Linked DNA regions of Homo sapiens: all the other regions are reported to be linked to region 3. The links are microRNA targets in miRTarBase. Many come from high-throughput screens and were not tested one by one. Region 3 holds a microRNA gene; each other region holds the end of a gene's coding sequence.
What was found. The annotated mature microRNA hsa-miR-4282 reads UAAAAUUUGCAUCCAGGA and lies in region 3 at 1,208-1,225, shown strand. An mRNA with a match to its seed (bases 2 to 7 or 8) in the 3' UTR can be bound and repressed. Matches are read on the target gene's strand: a 7mer-m8 pairs with bases 2 to 8, a 7mer-A1 pairs with bases 2 to 7 and ends in A, and an 8mer does both.

Region 1: miRTarBase lists NUP50 as a target of hsa-miR-4282. Seed matches in the 3' UTR shown: 7mer-A1 at 1,824-1,830, 7mer-m8 at 2,460-2,466 and 7mer-m8 at 2,798-2,804.
Region 2: the mRNA of SMU1 is a reported target of hsa-miR-4282. Seed matches in the 3' UTR shown: 7mer-m8 at 2,801-2,807.

Annotation. Positions count from the first base shown.
Region 1 is chr22:45,184,247-45,188,491 of GRCh38, forward strand. It overlaps NUP50 (nucleoporin 50), which reads left to right. Exons shown (of 8, transcript NM_007172.4): 8 at 207-3,771. The coding sequence ends at 409. All of the region lies in intron 3 of LOC105373064 (a long non-coding RNA gene), which reads right to left. Among named protein-coding and RNA genes, the nearest start is that of MIR1249, 15 kb to the right of the region's middle.
Region 2 is chr9:33,043,786-33,048,030 of GRCh38, reverse strand. SMU1 (SMU1 DNA replication regulator and spliceosomal factor) reads left to right here. Exons shown (of 12, transcript NM_018225.3): 12 at 640-4,245. The coding sequence ends at 738. Among named protein-coding and RNA genes, the nearest start is that of DNAJA1, 21 kb to the right of the region's middle. RefSeq lists a silencer at 3,373-3,692 and an enhancer at 3,547-4,048.
Region 3 is chr6:72,964,677-72,968,921 of GRCh38, reverse strand. It overlaps MIR4282 (microRNA 4282), which reads left to right and starts at 1,169; the gene lies at 1,169-1,235. All of the region lies in intron 1 of KCNQ5 (potassium voltage-gated channel subfamily Q member 5), which reads right to left. The region is part of intron 3 of LOC105377855 (a long non-coding RNA gene); the gene reads left to right.

The DNA.
Region 1 (4,245 bases), not on the chromosome of region 3:
CGGAAGGCCACTCCTCACAGTGAGGGCAAGTGCTCCCCGAGGCCTCCCAGTTCTCAGGGAACCAGTCCTGATTTTGTGCTGTCCTGTTGGCTCCCTGTCTTAGATGTATTAAGTTATTTCAGCATTTAATGTTTAGCATATTACAGACTCCTTTGGTGGAGCTATAGCTTCTATAATTTTGATGGGTTTTGTTTGTTTGAATGCAGGCAACATATTGCTGAACGTTCTGATTCCACCCAATATGCCATGTACGCGAACAGGGAAGAATAACGTTCTTATCGTCTGTGTTCCAAATCCACCAATTGACGAGAAGAATGCCACCATGCCAGTCACCATGTTGATTCGGGTAAAAACCAGCGAGGATGCAGACGAGTTGCACAAAATTTTACTGGAGAAAAAGGATGCCTGAACACGCAAAGTCGGCTGCAGAATTATTGCCAAGTTGCTGCTGCTTCCACCGCCCCTTAAAGTTAGTCAGTTTTTCTTCTCTTCTTTGACATTCTAAGAACTTATAGATAACTTAAAACTTTTGTGAGGAAGATTAATGTGGCCAATAAAACCTTTAAATGTTAAGTGTCAAGAAACTGCACTCTCCCTTCTTAAGAACTGCCTAAAGTGTAAAATACATTTGAATGCAATTTTTGGAAGATTTTTTAATGTTCGTTTATTAAACTAACCCTAAGTGATTTCTTCAAGGACTGCAATCAGGGTATCAATTTGCTTTCCCAAAGGCTCTTCCAACCCGTGGGTTTTGGGGTCCACCGCCACCACGAGAGAGGCTTTTGAACAGGTGCCTGGCTGTGTTCAGAAGGAAGCTGGCCTGTGTGCTTCTCTCCGGTGGGCTCAGCCGACGTGTGAGACTTGTTCTGTTACCAAATGAACCGGGCTGCCACGCTGTGACAGGCGTTTGTCCTCTGCTTTATTTTTACTTTGAAGCTCAAATGCGAGTACTAAGTGTTCACCTCAGCGTTCGAATCATTGGCCTGTAACCCTGTGGGCTGCTTCACGAGAATTCAGGACCTGCATTTTCATTCTAAAAAGAAATGAACAGCTTGTGAAGGAGTTTTTTGGCTTCATAGTTTCTATTCATGAGGTAGTGTTACTTCTTTATCCCCCTAAAGACAAAATGAAGATAAAGGGGGATTGCCAGGAATGGGTTTAAAAGCACAAATGTGGTAGCTTATCATCTACACCATGGAGAGTGAACCCTTACGAAATGAAAGTCAAATGAGACCATCCGAGAAAAAGATGCGCATAGGCATTTGTACCATGATCAACCCCACGCACATGAAAACTGTGACCAAGTGACGTGCCTGGGAGCTTTGACACACGAGCCGTGTGAATTCACTAGGAAACATGTAATAAAGTCATGGAAGAGAAAATCGTGTGTAAACTTTGCCTTTAACTTTAGACCGCAGTATATTATAATACATTTGATATCTGAAATATCTTTACTTTTTTAAGAGTAAGATTCCATATGTCTGTCTGGAAGGGAGCCATGGTTATTCACACGAATATCCCTGTCACTTCTCCAGAGGTGTCAGGTAACTAACACGAGCATTCTTTGAAGACTCTGGGCACATGAATGATACACAGAATTGAATGTTTAAATTTCCACTGAGTCCTCATGAATCATTTGAGACTAGTACCAGCTGATCTTGTGTACAGGCTCAGGGTCAGTGCCCAAGGGCTCCCGCGTGTGTGTTCTGATCTTCAGTGCGTAGCACATTCTCCATTTAGAAAAGAGTGGTCAGAATAATTGTGGACGGTACAGTGGCTTTTTAAAACTACAGTCTTTAGGTGTAAGGTTTGGCGCCGGGAGCAATTTTATGATCAAATATGATGAACTCCTAAGTCACTGAGGTGTGATTGGGCCAATGTTGGCATGAGGTTCTTGCTCTACTTCCAGTGTTTTGATTCCACTGGGAGAATTTGGCCTAGTGTGTGGCTTTGGATGAATCCGTGTAGAGAGAGGTGAGCTTGTCCTGTTACAGATGCTGTCAGACATAGCGATAGTAGGCACCTAGGGAGGAAGTGGCCGTTAGTTTTACACTGACTTTTTAAGAATGGAGAATGCACGTGGGTTTCTGTTGCGGATGATTCATAGTAAGCAAGCGGTTGATGCTGTTAATACCGGCCCCACCCGATTGACATTAAGTTTATTCAGCTTTTAAAAAGATGAAGAACTAAGGGGAACAAATTTAAGTTTGTTGCAACTTAGCCACACATGCTTCCCTGGTACCAGCTGGAATCAGCAGCTCACAGGCATCTTCAGGACACTTCAGTGTATATGACACAGTACTTTGTTAGCGTCTGCGTGTGTATGGAAAGTTGACAAAAAATGGCATGAAAAGATCATGATTGGATTTTCTTTTAAACCTGCCCTTCTGTAAAAAATAGTTTATATATTTTTAAATTAGTAGGTATGTGTGGCTTCCTTTTTTCCTAACATTCCCAGCAAATTTTTGCTGCTAAGACTATCACTGTTAAAGTGAAAATTACAGGGAAAAATGTGATGAATATACCGTAACTCAAAATGTGATATTTTCTTAAAATCACTCTTTTATGCTTTAGGAACTGGTTGGTCTCCACTTTGATTATTAGTGTAAAGAGCCTGAGTATACGTGGATTTCATTGTAAAATTTAACTCCTTGTCTTTTACTTGGGGCACGGGGCCCCTGGAGGGCTTCCCTACTTTCCCCACTATGTTAACAGGTAATTCTGATTTATGCGTTTAGTTTGACTTATTTTTAACAAAATATTAGAAGTTATGCTTTAAAATGTTTAATGTGGACTGAAATTTTCATCTTTTGTTTGAGAATCTATGAAGTGTATCATATACGTGGCCTAAAGCAAGGTGTGTATTTTGTTATTCTGAAATTGTTTTGCATCTGGACAAATACTAAATATCCCAGTGGCCTTTTTTTTTTTTTTTTTAAAACCTGTGTATCCATCTCATCCTTTTGCGCATTCCTAGTAAGCAAAAAAATTTGTTATGCCATCTTCATTATTCGAATTACAGACTGAAAAAATATGGCCAGTTTTTAAAGAAGTTTAGATTATGTTTTCCATGGAAGGACAAGTCTGACTGTTCATAGGCTGATTTTCTTTAAGAGGATTATTCTGTTTTACAATTTCAATTCTAGATCACATTTTATATATGCTGCATGCCAAAAAAAAAAAAAAGAGAAAACTGCCTTTTCTGGTGTGGAGGGGAAGAAAAACTAATATTCTACCTTACTAGTAGAGTTCAAAACAAGTTTTCACTGAGAGCCTTTTCAGTAAAAGTTAAACAAGTTTGTTTTTTGAGCATTTGTCAGTTATTCTATTTCAGAAGAGTCAAAATTCAAGCACGATACATTTTGAAGGCTTTGCAAACTCCTAAACCCCTGATGAGTCCTCTCATTCTGGAAGTGGGAATTTGAGTAGATACTGATTTGTCCCGTAGTATGGCAGATGACAGGGAGGTCTTTTCCAAGCAGGCACTCAGAACACAGGTCACCGTATGTTCTCAGCCAGTAACAATCATACTGAGGACGAAGGACTCTCCGTTTGATGCAGACACAATTGTAATGGAGATGTAAAACTTCTTAGCAATCAGATGGATAAATTGTTTGCTTTTTACTTTAAATAGGAAATTGTTTTCTAAAACTAAAATACTTGAATTGTCAGACAATATAATCTCAGCTTGTATTAGTTTTTGAATGCTCCCATCGAGGAAGTGTAACAATCCATGAAATGTGAATAAATGAAAAGTAAACAAAATCCCAATGTGTGAGTCTTATGTTCCTCTGTGATGCACTTGGCATTAATACAAGTCAGACAGACCTGAGGAAGAAGAATCAACGCAGAAGCTGCAACCGGAAACTTCCTTGAACAACAGGAAGGTCAGCTTGGAGGTGAGTGAGAGACCAGTTTATTATCAGACTCCTTGTTGGGGGCCGAGACTACTTTTAAACCATTCAGACCAAGGGTTTCTGTTGGATTAAAATCTTAACAGATTGGAATGGGAACAATTGATCCTTAATGGGCTAGTGTGCAAAGCATTGGCTAGGTGCTTTATATGTATTACCTTGGTTAGTCCTCAAAGCAAACCTTTGAGACTTATTTTTTAACCTTTCCTATGTTACTCAGCATTTATTTGGTTTATAAGGGGTATTTTCTGGTTTAAAAAAATAATATTGCAAAGATTTAAGTTATCCATCAAAGTATTTTCCTGAACCGTTAACATCTAATAGAAACTAA
Region 2 (4,245 bases), not on the chromosome of region 3:
TTTTCCAGAGCTATCGATGTGACCCTCAGTATAAAATATGTTGTTTTAAAACATTTAGCTCCATGTCAAATTCAAGAAGTAAAATTAATGTCAGCTGCTATGATGATCCCCAAATCTCGGTGGCTTAACACTATATAAGTTTGTTTATTTTTATTTTATTTTATTTTATTTTGAGAGGGAGTCTCACTCTGTCACCCAGGCTGGAGTGCAGTGGTGTGATCTCGGCTCACTACAACCTCTGCCTCCTGGTTTCAAGTGATTCTCCTGCCTCAGCCTCCCAAGTAACTGGGACTACAGGCACATGCCACCACTCCTGGCTAATTTTTTGTATCTTTAGTGGAGACGGGGTTTCACCCTGTTGGCCAGGCTGGTCTTGAACTCCTGACCTCAAGTGATCCACCCGCCTCTGCCTCCCAAAGTACTGGGATTGCAGACATGAGCCACTGCGCCCAGCCTAAAGTTTATTATTATGTCACAATGTGATGTGAGTTGGAAAACCCTCCTCCATCTTTCTCCTATGCCATTTGGAATATGTGGCCTCCCAAGATCTCTTTTTCCCTTCCACCCACCTCTGGAAGCCTCATCAGAGTGATTTATTGCAGATCTGTACATCCTAACCCTGTGCTTTACATGTTCCAGGTGCACGAGAAGGATGTGATTGGTATTGCACATCACCCTCATCAGAACCTGATTGCTACCTACAGTGAAGATGGACTCCTAAAGCTCTGGAAACCATAATTCAACTTTTCTTTTTAAATCAGCTCGAAAGCATGTACTTAAATGAAGCATATTCATGTAATGTGCTTTTTTTTTTTTTTGCCAGCTTTTCTAAGCAAATAGATTGTCTGAATTAGTCACAGAATAATTTTGTGAAAATTCATGTTTAAGTAGCAACTACCCTTTCTTTTTTTATATATTTTTAAGGTATTAGTTTATCTTCTTCTAACTGGTGCAGTCACTTAATGTTTTCATTAATCTTCGACCTGGAGAGTGAAATACTGATATTTCTAGAAAAAAATTCTACTCCTCTGATTATTTGAAATGCTGAGGAAAATGTCCCTCCCATAGTAAAACTTGTAAATAAGGAACTATATCATATTCAGTAGCTGTGTTCTGTTCCATCTTTTTTTTTTTTTTTGAGATGGAGTTTTGCTTGTTGCCCAGGCTGGAGTGCAGCGGCACGATCTTGGTTCACTGCAACCTCCGCCTCCCAGGTTCAAGCGATTCTCTTGCCTCAGCCTCCCGAGTAGCTGGGGACTACAGGTGTGCGACACCATGCCTGGCTAATTTTTTTGTATTTTTAGTAGAGATGGGGTTTCACCATGTTGGCCAGGCTGGTCTCAAACTCCTGACCTCAAAGGATCCACCCGCCTTGGCCTCCCAAAGTGCTGGGATCACAGGCGTGAGCCACCATGCCCGGCCCATCTTTTTTTTTTTTTTTTTTTTTAAAGATGTTAATAAACTTTATACCTTTCTGGAGACTTTGTTCTAAAATGTACATAAATGCTCATCTAGTTAACATATTTACTTAGAATGTGGGAGGAGGAGTCACATTATTATCCCTGAATCTCAAGTACAGCAGAAGTGAATTCCTGGGATAGTAGGATAGACTAACATGTAAAAAGGCCAGGTGATGCATAGGTTCTCATTTCACTGCCCTCAGCCTTCCTCTCCTTCTGAGCTGTGCCTTCTCACATGTTCAGTCAACTCCAGGGAATATTGTCTCCATCTTCTGGATAGAACTAGTTGCAGGATCCGTTACAAGAATTCAGAGTTTTGGCATCTCCCCTTTGTATGTTGTAGGAGAAGGTTTGGCATTGAAAATGTGCTGTTGTTCCAAAGAAAAATTAGCAAAGGACTTGAGATTTAGAAAAGTCTCCTTTGTAATGTGCATCATTACCAGTTATCTAAAGAAAAACATGTAAAAGCCAACAAAACCCTTGAAAATATTTTGCATATGGATGTCTGTTTCACGTTTCAACTGAAGATGTATAGAGCACCTCTGATGATGAGGAAGATACCATGCTAGGCAGTACTTTCAAGAACGTGAGTTCTTATTTCTGCAGGCCTTTTGTGCCCCCTTTTAAATGTTAGCATTTATTAGGTACAAACTAGTGGGGAAGGTTTTTTTAAAAAGTTTTGCAGTCTTGTAATTTACCTTTTTAAAAAATTTATTTTATTTTTCTGAGATGGAGTCTTGCTCTGTTGCCCAGGCTGGAGTGCAGTGGTGCCATCTCAGCTAACTGCAACTTCCACTTCCCAGGTTCAAGCGATTCTCCTGCCTTAGCCTCCCAAGTAGCTGGGACTACAGGCGCATGCCAGCATGCCTGGCTAATTTTTGTATTTTTAGTAGAGCGGGGGTTTTGCCATGTTGGCCAGGCTGGTCTTGAACTCCTGACCTCAGGTGATCCGCCTGCCCTGGCCTCCCAAAGTGCTGGGATTACAGGCATGAGCCACTGCGCCCAGCCTTGTAATTTACCTTTGATGGTGACCTGAAATGCAGTATGATCCTATATGTGGCACGTAGTAATGTTCAGTGTTTGCTGAATTAATTCTGGGCAGCACTAAGAAATCCCTCTTTCCCAGTCATATTCTATAACACATTTCCCATTTGCCACAAAACCTGCAGCTTTTTGGTCCAGGTAATGACATTTGCTGCCATTTTGATGATTTAAAAATGGTCGTGGGAGTTGAACATAGTCATGAATTCAGGATTCCTGAGCATGTAGACAGTCATCCCAGTGGAAAGACACGTTCACTTAAGAGAAGTTTAAGTTAGAGGAAACAGTTTATGCTAAAAAAATTTTTAGAAAAGTCCTTGAGAATTTTTGATTTAGTCTTGACCTCATGAAGCTGGTAGTTATGATGTGCATAGTTTGTATCACCGTTTATGAAGATGGAGAATCTAGTCAGCACGTGTTGGTTTATTCTAGGAATTTTTAGGGAACACTTCTGTTGCTGGCACCAGGTGATGAATATGGTTAAAAAAAGACTCGTTTCTGCCTAAACATAGGGAAGAAGAGCAAATTAAAAGGAGTAATTAAAACTGATAAAAGCTCAAGTTACCTTTGTGATGATGAGGCGGGCAGTTAACGCGAAAGGGTTGGGAAAGGCTTCCTGGAGGGACTAGGGGGCGGTCTAAGCACAGGGAACCTAACCGGGGACTCCAGTGTGGCACAGCGGCAAGGTATGTGCTGGGCAAAATGATAGGTGTCTTGGGAGACCAGGCAAAGAGAGCTGGATTAGGAGCCGTTAAGTATATATTTTTCTTCTTTTTAAATAAAATAATGCACTGGGTGAACATGTAAACGCTAAGTTGAAAATCTGCCTTTCCCAGGTAACCCTTGTTAATCTTTCTACAACTTCATTTCGTACAAACCTGAAAAACACACTGATTTTGTCTTTAAATGGGCACACGCTGCTTACACTCCTCGGCGCCTAGCCTTTCTGAAGCCCCACGCGGCCGTCCCTCCAGCATTGAAGGCTGGGGCAGCCCAGCTCCCCTCCAGCGCCCTTACAGCCAGACCGCGGCGGGGTCGGGCCGCGCACGCGCAGGGCGGACGGCCGGATCTGGGGCGCCGCTGCTCCGGGTGGTCGGAGGTAGGAGTCCCATCTTGGGTCCAGGGCCGGTAGAGCCCCTTACCGGGGGTAGGGAGACTGCGCACCCGCTAGAGCCAACTGTCAGGGCCTGCAGACGTCGGGTGACGTCACTGTTACAAAATTGGCGGTCACATCGTCTTAAGGGCCGGTGGCAGCGGCTGCGCGAACGGGAGTTGGCTGCCGGGAATCAGTGCTCACTTCCTTCTGAATTGGGCGTGTGCAGTCGGTTCCTAGGGAAGTGCTCTGCTGCAGCCACCAGATTTAACGGATGCTGCTCTCTAGCACTTAACATAGAAGCTAAACTACCTGGCGTTAAAATTAATTCCATGAGCATAAGGACATTTGTCCTATCCCCTATTCTGCTGTTGAATTAATGACTGGAAAACATTGCGCGGAGGTATTTGGGAGTAGTATGGCTTTTTTTTTTTTTTTTTTTTTAACAGCAAATGGTATAAATCTCAGGTACAATTCAGTATCTTCTTCACCAGTTGTTTTTTTTCAGCATGTATTATTACTACCACTAACGGCCTCTGTTGAGCCCTTCCTTGCTATGTAAGCAGCCATATTTAATTCTCAGAACAATGTAATGAGGGTGCGCAAATGCACATGAAGAAACAGGTTTCCAGACGTGAGGCACCTAACTCA
Region 3 (4,245 bases):
GTAAGAGATCACATTGTTTATTCTCATCCCTGAAGTCAGCCACACTTGAGAGATGAATAAACAACAGGTGCTGCCCAAGATTACAATGTAGGTTGACTTTGATGCTTCAATTATTTTTGGCCGAGATATTATATTTGTACATCTCTATGTTTGTAAATATTGCATATATGTATATATGGATAATTGTGGAAGTAAGAGCTATACACATCATTAGTTAATCTGATAAATAAACTTTAGTTAGTTTTAGGAGAATATCTCTGGATTATAAGAATAAGCCACTTCATAAAACATTTGTAAAACTTTGTAAAAACAAGTACATAAACAATATAGAAATGTATAACTTAGAAAGTCAAAGTCCCTAATAATCATTGTCTACACCTTTGCCTTCCTCTTTCAAATAATCAATATCATCAATTTGGGAGATATAATCTGAATTTCCCCCTCCTCATCACATGTTCTGTTTTTTTTTTCACTTATTTCTTTAAAAGTCTATCCTCCTTTGAGATTCTTTTCTTCACCCGTCTAGATCATAATGATATTTCTCTTCTCTACACTTTCAGTACTTTGAGTTTGCATGTTAATAATAAAATGTCTCACACGGTTCTCTAATTCAGTATTCCCCAGACTGTTTTCCATAGAACACCACTATCCCAAGAGATTTTTATAGATCTGTCTCAAGAAAAAGTTGCTCTGTCAAAAACACTTAGGGAGTTCTGGGTTCAATGACAATAACTGTATTTCTTTGTTGCAGAACTTCTGAGACACTGTGAGTGTGTGTGTGTTTGTATGTTTGTGTGTGTGTATGTAAGTTTCTATTCACATTTTATATAAATGAAAACATATCTTTGTCACATATATCAGATGTCCAATTTTGAGACTTGGTTGTGTTGGGGTCGCTAAGGAGAAGTGGCCCTGCGAATGAGGAAGAGACAGTGAGGGTCAAGAAGGAAGGTCAGAGTAAGCAGGGAAGAATCCAAAGAACATGGTATCCTAAAATCCAAAAGAGTTTTCAGAAGGAGAAAATGGGTCAGGTGCAGTGGCTTATGCCTGTAACCTCCACACGTTGGGAGGCCAAGGTATAGGGATCTCTTGAGGCCAGAAGTTTGAGACCTGCCTAGACAACATAGTGAGAACCTACTGAGACATCTTTAACTTCTTAGGTGTGAATGGTGAAGTTCCAGGGGAAGATTTTAGTATGCCACATTTCTAAAATTTGCATCCAGGAACATCATCCTATTCACCTTCTGACTGATATCTTAAGTGACCTTAATGGTTTTTAGAACCTTGTATGGAAAACTCTACATTCTTGAGAGCAGGGACTTTGTTCTTCATTCCTTTTTGAGACCCTTGTAGTGCATAGCATAGATCTGAAAACATCAAAGCACCCAACAAATATCCGTTGATTGCATCATATGGTTGAAGGAAATAAAAAGAAAAAAATGAAAAATATATTGAAAGATAACTAATATATGCCCAAACTTTTCACCATACATTTTCCTCACTGATTTATTTATCTTGAATTAAATAAAGGGATATTTTTTTGTCTTTAAGATGTACATCTTAAAATTACATAATACCATTATATTTCACTATACTGATCAAAAGTTATTGCATAGGAAGGGTGTACAGACTGATTATGAAATCCCAGTGAGAATATGAAAAATTTGCTGACTAAAATTTTTATAGTGCAAGAAATGTGTTTCTATCCTAAAGAGGGTTATAAAATGGGAGAAATAAAACCCTAAGAGTCATATCATTAAATTTATGGAAGTTCATTTCCTGTGTGTGAGGAGAGTCTAATGGAAAACTTTATAACCATGGACCTTCTCCTTTGTCACAGCTGAAGGGATCCAATGCTAAAATTCTGTTCCATGTAACAAAAAGTACAGTAGAAGAAAATATTGTATCTTGAGTATATTCCTGTCCTTCTATATCTTCCTCTGACTTCTGTAAGATATATTTTAAAAACTCAGTCCACATTCCTTAATTCCTCCAACTCCCTCCAGAAACAACAGGTCTTCAAGGTGTAATTGGGTAACTTTTATTGAAATCAGCTGTTGGTAGTCCCTGGCAACCATATGTGCCAGTTATTGAGTCACAGAGGAAGTGCTGGGTTCCTGAACACAGTCTGTATGGAGTAAATTCTCGAAGCATTTGGCCCTATCTCACAATGCCTCTCACTTTGCCCTGCTCATGATCCAGTCATGGATTTTAAATTGAACCCATGTTTCTGTTTCCATACTGAAAGTTAAGTTTTAGCATAAATATTTGAGGGTCACCACAAATTTAAGAGGATACCTTTCAAAATATGCTTTTCTTTTTTTTCTCTCTCTCTTTTTCTTTCTTTCTTTCTTTGATGGAGTTTCACTCTTGTCACCGAGGCTGAAGTGCAGTGTGGTGATCTTGCCTCACTGCAACCTCTGCCTCCCGGGTTCAAGAGATTCTCCTTCCTCAGCCTCCTGAGTAGCTGGGATTACAGGCGCCTGCCACCATGCCCAACTATTTTTTTTTTTTTTGTTATTTTTAATAGAGACAGGGTTTCACCATGTTGGCCAGGCTAGTTTCGAACTCCTAACTTCAGGTGATCCGCCCGCCTTGGCCTCCCAAAGTTCTGGGATTACAGGCATGAGCCACCACACCTAGCCTGCTTTTCTTTTTATAATACAAAAACAAAATAACATTTTTGATTCGAACCTTATTGGGAATATTTGACTGCTAGTCATAAACTGCCTAAACTAATAAATAACAAAGTAATATATTTATGAGACAGCAACAAGAAATTCTTCTTGGGCTCAGGATGATATCTCAAAGTAATAAAAATATATGCTATCTTCTGTATTTGGCTTCAGGACCTGATGGTGGTGGATGGTGGGAAGTGCTCTAACTCGACTGGAGGCAGCACCTCCCCTTCTGCTCCAGCACACGGCCTTGGGCAGGCACTTTAACCTCCCTGGGACTGGCATCTCTCTTCTGTAAAACCAAGAGGTTGATCTGCATAAACACAAATAGCACTTCCACATATGTCCAAATCCATGACAATATTATTCCAGGTAAAAATGTGCAGCAGATCCTCTTACACATAGACAAAGTGGGCCATTCTGTTTTACAAATAGCACTTTTCAAGCAATGTGACTTTTTTGTGCTTAACCCAGTAATGAGCATTTCCTAAAAATTTAAATGCTAATAAGATAAACCTTAATAGCAACTTGATTGTGGAAGTTTGGATTTAAAAATAAAATAGATAATAACTCTGGAGATGACAGGACCACTTTTCTCCTCTAAATTGTTTGATGCTGTGGGTCAGTGGATAGGAAAACAATAAGAACATCTGCTCAGATGACACACTTCACATTCCCGATGAGGCCATAATAGTTCACGATGAAATGTTGAGAAAATGGCTTCTAGGAAAGAAAAAAACAGAAGGAGATACAGCCATTTCTCATTATTTGCAGTGGCAGTTATGTTCTGTAAAGTCACTACAAACACTGAATTAGTAAATACCAAGCCATTGCTCGTAGGGATATACAGGACTAAGTCCCCAGGAGCCTCTGGTCTCATCAGTTTTATCAACTTATCAATACATATTATTGTTTTACCTGTGCTTCCATTTAATGATACGTTATTTAATATTGTTGATTCACTAATGTTGAACTCACAGCCAAGAGCACTGTAACTCATGCCTGAAAGAAGCTTATCTAACCAACTGTGTTTTCTCCAAGAGGCTCATCACAGCCTTCTTGTGCTTTGGAACAGTAGACAGCACTTCAGCACTACTCTTGGGGCCAATTTTAAGTGGTGAAATTATCAACAAAAAGCACAAAAGGCTGAGCATGCCTGTAACCCCAGCACTCGAGGCCGAGGTGGGAGGATCACTTGAGACCAGGAGTTTGAGACCAGCCTAGGAAACGTAGTGAGACCCAATTTCTACAAAATAAACAAATAGATAAATAAAACGTAAACCAAAAAAGAATTTTTTTTTAAAAAAAGCACGAAAATGTGAAAAACAGCAGAAAATAGGTCTTGCAAGGGACACATGTTTACAGTGTGAGTGCTGAAACAAGAAGACAAGAGTGTCAGTTTGTTCAAACTCAGTTGAGAACCCGAATGTTGGGAGACTAAAATTTTTTTGTTGCTCTGTAAAGGGCCACAAAGGTGCCATAGGTGTTATTTCACCTCATAAATACATTTTTAGTGGGTTAGCAAATTTGCAAACATGGAATACACTAATAATATTGAGGATCAACT